3 linked regions of the Homo sapiens genome follow. The protein of the gene in region 2 interacts with the protein of the main gene of each other region in a pairwise test. Each region holds a gene or a part of one and is shown on either strand. Other genes may lie near its edges.

Region 1 (3,500 bases), on a different chromosome or scaffold from region 2:
TGAAAAGTGCAGGTGACAGCCTTCATTAAGGACACATTTACTCACCTGAATGAACAAGCAGTGGGACCCTTTATACCCAGTCACTTGGGCTTGAGAAATAGCTGGATTCTCCCCAGGGAGGCTGTCCTCCTCCCCCTCCCCCACTTCCCTGATTTAAGGTTGAAGATGGCTGGAATGCACCCCACCTATGAAGAGCAGTGGACATGGCTGGGGGTAGAGCCAGAACAAGCACTCAAAAGAACACAGGCCAAACAGGAGACTCGGGGCAGCCAAGTGGAACCAGAACAGGACATAAAGTGAGCGTGTACATCCAACAGCCATGAGTAATATCAAAAAGGTTGTAGCCTGGCCAGCACGGCGAAACCCCATCTCTACAAAAAATACAAAAAGTAGCTGGGCATGGCAGCATGCACCTGTAATCCCAGCTACTTGGGAGGCTGAGGCAGGAGAATCACTTGAACCCGGGGGCCAGAGGTTGCAGTGAGCTGAGATCGTGCCACTGCACTCCAGCCAGGGTGACAGAACAAGAACCTGTCTCAAAAAAAAAAATAAAACAGGTTGTAACCCATCCTCCAAGATACCCCCCATACATCTAAAACAATTAGATTAAACACTCAACAAAGTAAACATGTTTCTGTCCTCTGTCTCATGTCTCTCAGGCAGCAGGGCTTCCCATGTATTTTATGCTAGCAGGCACTGTCCCACACCCACCTGAAGCCACGGGTGTCTTAAGGCTTCTTCTGTCGTAAAACGTGCCTTTGGATCCACTACCAACAACTTCTTGACAAGGTCCAGAGCTAAAGCAACAATTGGGCAAATCACAGTGAAAAGGATAAATATATTATCAGTAAGAGTATGCCAGAATTAACAGGCCACCATTCAGAAAGAGCAGAGAGGGTCTGAGATCATCACGGAGTCAGCAGACAGGGCCCCCTAATCTTCCTCACTCTCTGTATTCAGAGTACTGTGAGAAGACCAGGAATGATAATGACACTCCCTGTCTCCTGCTGCTGGGACGTCAGTCACGACCTCTTCACTGCCTGTTCCCTCTCTTGTTGCTAGACTCAAGGTCGGACTAATTAAAGCTAAACTTCTACCCAATTCTAAGATACTTGGGATGCACAGCAAACTCTCTCTGACATCTACAGATGGATAGGTGACAGTTACTCAGCGAGGGAGAGGCTCCCTGGAACTGCAGACTTGTCAGAAATAAAACTTGGCTACTCCAGCAAGCAACAAATGCACGCTGGCCTGTATATTACAACATTATTATTCCTTAAATATTCTGACATTTAACACAATCACCTATGTTATGTTATTTGACATTTAATTTTCTACTTTCTCTTCAGGGAACTAAAGTTGCCAGGATAAATTATAAAATACAAGGTAACTAATGACATCTAGTTTTTACATGCTTGCTTACTCAAAGGAAACCTTGTAACTAAAAAGTTACAAGTGCATTTATTTTGCTCACTAAAATAGGTACCAGGCACTTGTGTACATGATACTTAACCCTCACAAAAACCTTTTAAGGTAGGGTTTATTGAGGGTCCCTTTACACAGAAAGAAATTGGAGATGGAGGTTAAATAACTTGCCTAAGGCCACACAGCTAAGTAGTAGCAGACCCAGGACCTGAGTGCATGCTCTTAATAATTTCCAGTGCCTCTCAAATGGTGTGAAACTAACAATAGAAAATAAGAACAGAATTGACAGGAGAAAACACCATGGAATTTGGGAAGAAACTCCCACCACAGCACATACACATTTTAGCATACCACAAATTCTTAACCCTTTCATATTCATACCTTTCTCTGAGACTTCTGCCCAGACTTCAGGAATGAAGTTGTATTTTCCACTGGTGATCTGATCCTTCAGTGACACTTGAGTCCTATGCTCAGAGAAAGGTGGATACCCACTAAGGCTTAATATTGGTAGAGAGAGAAAGGAAAAGAAATCAAGTGGCATTCTCAGTGGCATTCAGATATAAAGATTTCTTTTTCAGCATAATGAAAAGTCAGATTTTTCTTTAAATCAATGGTCAAAAAGTGAGCTAGGCTGGGCACAATGCCTTAGGCTTGTAATCCCAGCACTTTGGGAGGCCGAGGCAGGAGGATCACTTGAGCCCAGGAGTTCGAGACCAGCCTGGGCAACATGGCAAAACCCCATCACTACAAAAAATAGAAAAATTAGCTGGGCATGGTGGTGTGCATCTGTAGTCCCAGCTACTCGGGAGGCTGAGGTGGGAGGATCACTTGACCCAGGAGGCAGAGGCTACAGTTAGCCAAGATCAAGCCACTGCATGCCAGCCTGGACAACAGAGCAAGACACATTTGTGACTTCATCTAATCACCTCCTACCAGTCTGTGCAGCAATGAAAATATTTCTTACCAGATAAAAAGAATAACTCCTAAACTCCAGCAGTCCACAGCACGGTTATACCCAGCAGTCCCAACAGAAACAAGAACTTCAGGCGCCAAGTAGGTGGGGGTTCCACATAAGGTTCTCATGAGAGAGGTCTCTCCCAAAATCTTGGAGTGCCCAAAATCAGTAATCTAAAATTCAGTACAAAAGGGAATAATGTTGAACTTGCCATAAAATAAAAAGATTAACATAGTCTGCCAGTCCAAGAAGACACGTAGGCTAGATCAGTTTCTATTGTACAATTCACACCTGCCATTAATCTGGAATTTACAGATTCATGTCTTTGCAAGTTAGGACATTTAATTTTGCTTAAATTAAAATTCCTGAGCCTAGGAATCTCAACACTCAGGCTTTCCAACTTAACCTATGTCCTCTGTAATCTTACAAAAAGCTTATTATCTTTATCACAGACACTTCAGGATTCTAATTAGTTCTACATGGTTCTTAGACCCCAGTGTCTCAAACTTGGCTGCGCTATGGAATACCTGGGGAGCTTGGAAACACATGCTTATACCTGAGTGCCACTCTCAGCTTCTGAGGTAAAGCCTGGGTGTCATAAATCCTAACAAGAGATTCTAAAGTGATGCCAGACTTGAGAAACAGGGAAAGGCAGCGCATGTGATTACTCATTCATTCATTCACCTATTCTGAGATGATGTCTGGCCCTTTTGCACAGGCTGGAGTGCAGTGGTGCGATCTCAGCTCACTGCAACTTCTGCCTCCCAGGTTCAAGTGATTCTCGTGTCTCAGCCTCCCAAGTAGCTGGGATTACAGACACCCACCACCATGCCCAGCTAAATTTTTGTATTTTTTGCCATGTTGGCCAGGTTGGTCTCAAACTCCTGACCTCAGGTGATCTGCCCACCTCGGCCTCCCAAAGTGCTGGGATTACAGGTGTGAGCCACCATACCCAGCCCACTCGTCCATTTAGACCCCTCCTCTCTCTCTAAGCACAAAGGTCACTTGTACACAACAGAGCTCAATAAATGCTCATTCGAATCTGGATAAGAGCAGTATCACCTGATCTCTAAAATAATTGGTAACAGTGAAAGGGTCAGATTCTCATCCTTTTTACGCT
Region 2 (4,417 bases):
GTACTTCAGCCTGGGTGTCAGAGCAATACTCCGTTTTGGAAAACAAACAAACAAACAAACAAACAAAAAACAGATGGAGCAACTGAGAGAGGTCTTGTGACTTGCCCAAAGTCACACACCTCATCACTAATCACACCTAATCATTGAGATTTGGACACACATGGTTCAGTTCCAGAGTCCATGCTCCAAACCATGACGACACAGTGAGAGAACATTCAAGGGGAGCCCAGACCCAGCTTCATAACCAGGCCTGTGAGCAGGAGAAAGTGGAAGGGATCGTAAGTGCCCAGGGGAGGCAAAGATGGACTCTGCCTGAGGATCTCAGAGATTTCCTGGAGGAGGGAGAATTGAGGTTGGGTGTTGAAGGATGAGTGGGAGTTCACCAGGAAAAGAAGGATATGGAGAAAGACATTCACTCATTCAATGAACATCTCCTGAGGACTTCTGCAAGCCCTGTTCCGCCTGGAACGGGGTGATGCTGGGACACAGAGATGAGTCAGACCTGGGCCCAGCCCTCCAGAAGCTGTCCACCTGGTGAGAAGGAATGATGAGGAGAGAGGCAGGGAGGATGGGGTGATGGAAGGGACAATGGGGTGGGGGGCAGGGAGATGGATGAAAAAAATATATAGCAAATGTTCTCAGGATTTGGCAAAGATCAGGATGTATTAAGAGAGAGCACAGGGCACTTGCTACCTGGAAGGTTGGGCACCTGGGTCCTTGGGTGGTGGAGCCGTGGGGAAGGGGGCAGGTTATGACAAGAGTGGGTTAATCCAGATGGAACCAGATTTCTCAACATTCTAGGAGAGGGCCTTGTCCTTGTGGGAAGAGGCCCAAATCCCCAGGGCAGGGAAGGTTCTGCAAGGTGTGTAAACCTGTGCAGCTGCCTGTGGTCTCTGCCTCACTCCACCTGGATTTCCCTCAATCTTTCCCGTGTTCTGTCTCCTCCTCCCACTCCTCCTCTCATCTTGGGTCCTTCTGTGCCTGTACCTCCCTCTCTTTGTATCTTTTGCTCTTGTGTCTGAGTCCTGACTCTGTCTTCCACCCCTCGCCTCCTTTCTGGGTGGTCCCCCTGCACATCCCTCCAGCCTGCCGTGGGAGGTTGGTCTCTGCACACCACTGCTTTATCCAAAATAAACCTGCTGCACCCCAGGACCTTAGGCTTCAAGGATCTCCCTCCTTTTCCAGGACACAAAAGATTCTGTATCTTGTAGCCTAAGGTGATGAGGAATGAGGTCTCCCACTCTGAAGACCCCAGAGGAGGTGCCCACAACCTCTCCACACCCCCAGCACTCCTCCTCCATTCAGTCAAGCTCTGGCCCAGCAAGCCGCCAGTTCATCCCAAAAGGGGGGTCCCCCTGCACTTACCTCCTCTCCCAAGGCCCCTGTCACAGCCCCAGGGCTTCCCCCTCCCCCAGGTACATTTCCCAACCCCGATTAATCACAGGGGCGGCCCCATGGAGGAGGAAGGAGATGGCATGGCTTACCATAAAGAAGCACTGGACGCCGGGTGCACGTTCCAGGATCCAGGTGCCCAGGGGTCATGAAGCTGGGACTCCTCTGTGCTCTGCTCTCTCTGCTGGCAGGTGAGGCTCCCAGGCTGGCTGCCCCTTCACGGCTGTACTAAGGTCACCTTGCTCTTCCCTCCCATCCCAGGCTTCTGCCTCCTGCCCTCTAGGCTTCTCAGCATCCTCTCCCTGCCCTCCCAGCCTGCTCTTCGCTGACCCCTTTGTCCCTCATCCCCACCCCAGGGCATGGCTGGGCAGACACCCGTGCCATCGGGGCCGAGGAATGTCGCCCCAACTCCCAGCCTTGGCAGGCCGGCCTCTTCCACCTTACTCGGCTCTTCTGTGGGGCGACCCTCATCAGTGACCGCTGGCTGCTCACAGCTGCCCACTGCCGCAAGCCGTGAGTGACCCAGGCTGGCCATGCTGGGGAGGGACAGAGGCTGGGGGTCAGGAGAGGGTGAGGGGTGCTTTAGGCCAGAAGTGCGGAGCCTCCACTTCTGATACCACAAGTTCAACTCTTAGAAGTAGGAAGGGTAGCCTCCCAAATCCTAAAATTCTAGAGACCAGCAATATCTCATTTGAGAAGTCTAAGATTCGAAACTTAGGCTCTTCGAATCCGAGACTGACCCAGAGAAATCCAGAATCGTAGAATCCTAAAATCTTGAATTTATGAAATTCTGCAATAGCCTCAGCAAATTTTAGAATCATAGATTCGCAGACTATTAGAATCTTAGCAGTCTGGGTCAGCACTGCCCAGAGGAATTATGATGCCAGCCACATGTGTAAGTTTAAATTTCTGGTGGACACATTTAAAAAATAAGGAATGAGTAAAATTAATTCTAATAGATTTAACTTGACATACCCAAAAACTTATTTTGACATGTAATCAATTTTTAAATACGTATGAACGATACAGTTTACTTTTGTTTTGGTACTAAGCCTTTGAAATCTGTTCTGTATTTTACACACATAGCCTGTTACAAAATGGACTAGCCACATTTCAAGTGTTCAATAGCCATAATGGCTAGTGTGATCCTAGAATCTTAAATTCAGAGCTTTCTAGATTCATTGAATATTGAAACTCACAGTACTAGAATCTTTGATTCACAGTATCCTAGAATATTGAGATTCAGATAATTCTGTAGTCTTAAACTATTTGAATCCCAGACTCTTAAATTTCTAAGGTTATAGATTTATAGAATGATGACATTCTAGTCTTTCTTTTTTTTTTTTTTTTTTTTTTTTGAGACAGAGTCTCCCTCTATCTCCCAGGCTGGAGTGCAGTGGCACAATCTCAGCTCACTGCAACCTCTGCCTCTCGGGTTCAAGCAATTCTCCTGCCTCAGCCTCCTGAGTAGCTGGGATTACAGGTATGCACCACCATGCCAGGCTATTTTTTTTTTTTTTTTTTTTTTAGTAGAGACGGGGGTTTCACCATATTGGCCAGGCTGGTCTTGAACTCCTGACCTTGTGATCTGCCCGCCTCGGCCTCCCAAAGTGCTGGGATTACAGGCGTGAGCCACCGCGCCCAGCCAAAATTCTAGTCTTTTTGTCCTAGAACATTAAAATTCTATGTTCAAATCTTAGATTTAATTCAGATAATGTTAGAATCCTGGAGTTTTTTTGATCCAGGGGAATCTGGAATGTTAGAATCTTGGATTCATAAAACTCTAAACCTTGAGCCTCTAGATTCTAGAATCATGGATAATAGTGTGTCGGAATCTGAGAATTCTAGAATCTTAGGTTCTGGGCATTCTAATAGTATCCTGGAATCCACCTGATGCAGGAATCCTCTCTCCATTGCCTCTGAAAAGTGACCATCCATACTGTTCCAATTTTCTTCCCTCCATGAGTAAAGCACTGATTGTGGTAAGAGATGCTGTGTGGGAATTTCCCATCATGCATTGCTCCATGATGGAACCTCCTTTAACTTAAGCCTATACATCAGACTGGGAGAACGATGTTCAGATTTCAGCCGAAAGTGAAGCAGGAGAAATGCAGAGATATGAAGGTGGAAGAGAGTGAGAGGCAGGGGAAGGGTAGGGGGATGAAGGGATGTAGGGGTGAGGACTACTTTTCCAGATCCAGAGCCAAGACAGCAAGAATGACAGAGAGAGACAGACACAGATGTTTCTGGTTCCCCAACCCTGAATTCGCAGTCATTAGCCTGCTGCCTAATGTCAGAGGTCAGAGGCTGGGGAATGGACTTGTCATCCCCGAAAGGATCCCAGCTGTCTAGGGCATGGACCAGAAATGAAACAAGTGCGCTGAGACTGTGGTGAGGGCTTAAGGTTAGACACCAGGAAGACATGCATTGAAGGGTGAAGGATATGATAGACAGGAAAAGCTGAGGCCAGAGATGACCCCCAATTTGGGGATTTTCCATATCCCATCCCCTTTCATACACACGCACACGTATACACACACACCACTTAGACATACAGAGCCGCTCCCACAGAAGCCACCAGACCTGTGGGGGCAGGGGTGGGGCGGTTGTTATGTGGTAGGTGGGGTCCCCCGTGCCCACACCGTTCCTAGGGACCCAAGTCACCACCAAGGCTCCAGGTGAGTAGGGAGGAAGGTGGCTCACTCAGCCTGGGACTAGGAGCGGGGGCTTTGTGGGGAGAGCTACAAAGATGGAGACACACAAAACATCAGAGTGGGGACCAGGGACCCAGAGGAGGTGTGTGCCTCGCTTAAAATCACAGTACCCTGGGCCAGACATAGATGATGAGGGTGCAGAGAGGGTGTGTGGCTTGCAGAGGGTCACACAGCACCCTGATGGACAGGAAAAGAGGGCTGGGGCTGAAAGGACTTTTACCTTTCCCCCAGCTTGACCTCTGAGGCCTGTCCCAGCAGGTATCTGTGGGTCCGCCTTGGAGAGCACCACCTCTGGAAATGGGAGGGTCCGG
Region 3 (3,722 bases), on a different chromosome or scaffold from region 2:
CCGAGATGCCCCTTCAGTCCCATTTGGTCCTTTTGGAACTATTTCAAAGCAATACTTGGTTCCAGGGAACAAGCCACCAATGATAATACTTTGGTTGGTGGTTATTTCTACCCGAGAATTGCCAGCTCCCTCCTGTGTGATATGCATCTGAAATGATTCTGCATCATGGCTGCTCCATGCTAAGCCGATCTCCGTCGTGCTGACCACTGTCACTCGGAAGTCAGAAACTGGAACAGGGGCTATGCAAAGAAAGTAAACAACTAGATTAAAAATATACTTCTCCAGGAGACAGGGATGCCCCACCTCAGAAAATACTGAGATGAAATGTACACTTAGGACACCTGATCCCTCTCTCTGTCTTCTTTGTATCATCACCTACAACATGAGCCCCTCAGAAACTGCTGTTTCTGGCCATGGAGAGAGCACTTGATCATGAGAGTGCAGAAGCTCTGTGCTTACATTGCACACAATCATTCACAGGAAATGAGAGGAGGCGTGAGCTCCTGTGGTCAAGGGCTCAGGCTCTGGAGGAGAACCTTGGCCACACTGGCTGCTTTATCTCGAATGCATTACTAGCCTCCCAGAGCCTCTGTTCAGGGAGGGACAGCAGAGAGAGACCAGTCTTGACCCCCAAAATCCATTCCCCCATTTTCCCTTCATCATACCCACCCAGATTTTTAGCCCTGTGTGTGCATACCTGTTGGAAACAAAGACCACATTTCCCAGCTCCCATGGAGCTAGATGTTGCAATGTGACTAAGTTTTGCTCAACGAAGCATGAGCAGAGGTACTGGGTGACTTCTAGGAAGTGTCCTTTAAGGGTGGGGCACAACCTTCTGCCCTTCCTCCTTCTTATACCTGTAGTGTGGATGCAATGACTGGAGCTCACGCTGCCTGGCTCTAGAACCAAAACCTCAGCGGTGGCTGCAGCTTCCTGATCCCAGGATCACAGCTCAGAACATAGACCCCTGGATCCCGCAACTACAGCAGAGACTTCCTGATTCCTCCCTCTGCTGTCTGTGACCAAGGTGGTGACTCTCCAGGGGGTCAGTTCTGCAGACTTAGTCCAGGAGTCATTTCTTGGGGCGAGGCCTAAAGCCTGCTCCTCAACTGTTATGAGCTGACTTGTGCTCCCTCACCCCCAAATGTGTATGTTTATGTCCTAACCCCCAAGACCTCAGAATGTGGCTGTCTTTGGAGACAGGGTCTTCAAAGAGGTAATTAAGTTAATGTGAGGTCATGAAGGTAGGCCCTAATCCAGCAAGACTGGTGTCCTTATAAAGGGAGATGAGGGCATAGGCACACGCAGACTAAGGACAACCATGTGAGGGAGAAGACAGTCATCTATAAGCCAAGAGGGAGGCCTCAGAAGAAACCACACCTGCCGTTGCCTTAATCTTTGACCTTCAGCCTCCAGAACTATGAGAAAGTCTATTTCTGTTCAAGCCACACAGCCTTTGGTACTTGTTCTGGTAGCCCTAGCAAACTAATACACCAGCTCTTCCAATGATTCTGCAAAACCTCAATTCCCAGGATAAATCCCTTTTGGTTAAAATAGCTCACAGTTTCTGTTTCATACAACTGAGCCTTGGATAACCTCTATCATCCCCATCCTGCCTAGCACTGGGCTTCTGTTACAGGAGAGAGAAATAAACCCCTGTCTTGTTTAAGCCACGGATACTTGGGTTTTGTTGTTGTTGTTTTTGGTGGTGTTATTCGTGGCTGAACCTAATCCTAACTAATAAATAGTAAAAGAGTAAAAGGTAAAGAAATGCAAGCATATTTCATTTTCCCAAAGATCCAGTCCAAAATACATCTATAAGAATGCTAAGGTGTGCTTCCTGCGAAGGAATGGACATTCTTGTGGGATAAGCCTGGGTCCAGAGCCACACACCCCTGAGTTCAAGTCCTGCTCTGCTACTCACTAGCTCTGTGGCTTTGGGCAAACTGTTCAGCCATCAGGGTGTCATTTCCTCATCTGTAAAAGGGGACCCCAATACCTACCTCGGAGGCCACTACAGTGTCTATAAATCTCATGGCACAGTGCAAAATGCAGTGCTGGTGTCACTACTATTGTTTAATAGTATATAATCAATATTATACCACTGTACTACTAGTGCACCATTACTGTTTTATTTTACATTATCGGACCTTCTTTGAAACCTAAAGCTTTTTATTTGCTGCATAAAATCTTATTTTTAAGGGACATTTAAACAAACAAAGATGAGATACAGCTGTGCCAGTGATTCGTTATAATGTCAGCACCCAAGACACAAGGGGATATGAATACCAGGTCATTTTTGTCTCCCTGTATCAATTCACTCTAGGTCTCCTCCACACTGGAAAGAGAGTTACAAGCGCAGGCTCCAGGTGAGAAATACCAGAGGCTTAATCTCACCTCTGCCACTTTCCAGCTGTGATACCTGTCTAGCACCTCTCTCAGCCTTGGCTTCCTATCTATAAAATAAGGCTACTTCCAACCACATCACAGGGCTGTTGTGAGCATACAATGTGCCAGTGCAAGGAAAGCATGTCACACGAAGCTTGGCGTGTGGTCAGCCAACAGTCACCATTACTACATCATGCATCCTGTGTCTGGGCCTGGCACGGAGCAGGACAGCAGGAAAGGGTGGTGAGAGCCAGGCATGAACTCACGGGTGTGCACTTGGAGGAAGCCCGGCGTGCCCTCGATGTCACCTAGGACAGGACACACTGTGATGTTGTAGAAGGTGCTGGAGCGGAGTCCGGGGATGACAGCGCGAGGCTCACTGACGTTGAGATTGGAAGAATCTGTCTCCCCCGCCACATGTATCTTGTAGGTATAGTTAGATGACGACTCGTTATCGCTGACTTTCCAGATCAGGGTCAGGCTTGTGGCACTGATGTTCACAGCGGTGACGTCAAAAACCTGAATAGCATCTGTGAGAACACAAGAGGAGTTCAAAATAACCAGAACGGCCAAGGCAGAGGGAGGGAGAGGTCATCAGGGCATGCTGTCAAGCCCAGCAAACTCTCCTGGGGGAGTGTTCCTTCCTCCTCTGCACCATCAACCGTGGCTAGGAAAGCATGACGGTCCCAGCCAAAGTCAGGCATCATTGGGCGGTGAAGAAACAACCTGGCCAATGGCACCTGCAGGGTTATTCTTTGTTCCTTTTTGTAAGTTGACTTTAGAGATTTGACCTAAATGATGACTTGGACTCTATGCATGTCTTACCCTAGGGCCAGGGGCACCCAGAAAAGTTGTCAAACACACATGATGCAAGAGCGAACACTGCGATCTATGTGATCGCCCGAGATCACAGAAGTCAGGACGAGGCAGGCCTGGGTTCCAGGGCTCACTCTGCTATGACACCCAGGTGGGCCACAGGAAAACCACTTGAGCTCAGCTTCCTCACCTATAAAACTGGAGAGCAATCCTAACCTCAAGAAAAGATAACCCGAGTGCCAGTTATTCACCACCTGCCCACTCCACCCTCCCGACATATCCACTGCCCTTCCCTCACCTGCTCTGGGCCCAGGAGGCTGACCTTGTGCAAGGCATCATGGGGGGTCTTGCCACATGGGCTGTGACCGGGTTCCACTATGAGCCAATGGGCAGGCCCCTGAAGGGCCACAGGAGAAAGGAGTCAGTGCCTTCCTCCATCACCTCCTGCTCTGGGCCTCCTGTCCTGACACAGCTGTGTCCACCACTGCCCCAGCTCTCACTGGGCTCCAGAAACACCC

What was found.
Region 1: the proteins of KLK9 (region 2) and CHEK2 interact in a two-hybrid assay, tested with the Homo sapiens proteins (one large-scale study listed by BioGRID and IntAct).
Region 3: the proteins of KLK9 (region 2) and PTPRJ interact in a two-hybrid assay, tested with the Homo sapiens proteins (one large-scale study listed by BioGRID and IntAct).

The regions. Positions count from the first base shown.
Region 1 is NC_000022.11:28,693,321-28,696,820, forward strand, and holds part of CHEK2 (serine/threonine-protein kinase Chk2), read right to left. Parts: intron 2,554-3,500; coding exon 2,390-2,553; intron 1,923-2,389; coding exon 1,807-1,922; intron 798-1,806; coding exon 712-797; intron 1-711. UniProt on the Homo sapiens protein: Serine/threonine-protein kinase which is required for checkpoint-mediated cell cycle arrest, activation of DNA repair and apoptosis in response to the presence of DNA double-strand breaks.
Region 2 is NC_000019.10:51,006,671-51,011,087, reverse strand, and holds the start of KLK9 (kallikrein-9 precursor), read left to right. Parts: upstream 1-1,495; 5' UTR 1,496-1,540; coding exon 1,541-1,583; intron 1,584-1,748; coding exon 1,749-1,905; intron 1,906-4,364; coding exon 4,365-4,417.
Region 3 is NC_000011.10:48,126,976-48,130,697, reverse strand, and holds part of PTPRJ (receptor-type tyrosine-protein phosphatase eta isoform 1 precursor), read right to left. Parts: intron 2,919-3,722; coding exon 2,655-2,918; intron 240-2,654; coding exon 1-239. UniProt on the Homo sapiens protein: Tyrosine phosphatase which dephosphorylates or contributes to the dephosphorylation of CTNND1, FLT3, PDGFRB, MET, KDR, LYN, SRC, MAPK1, MAPK3, EGFR, TJP1, OCLN, PIK3R1 and PIK3R2. Plays a role in cell adhesion, migration, proliferation and differentiation.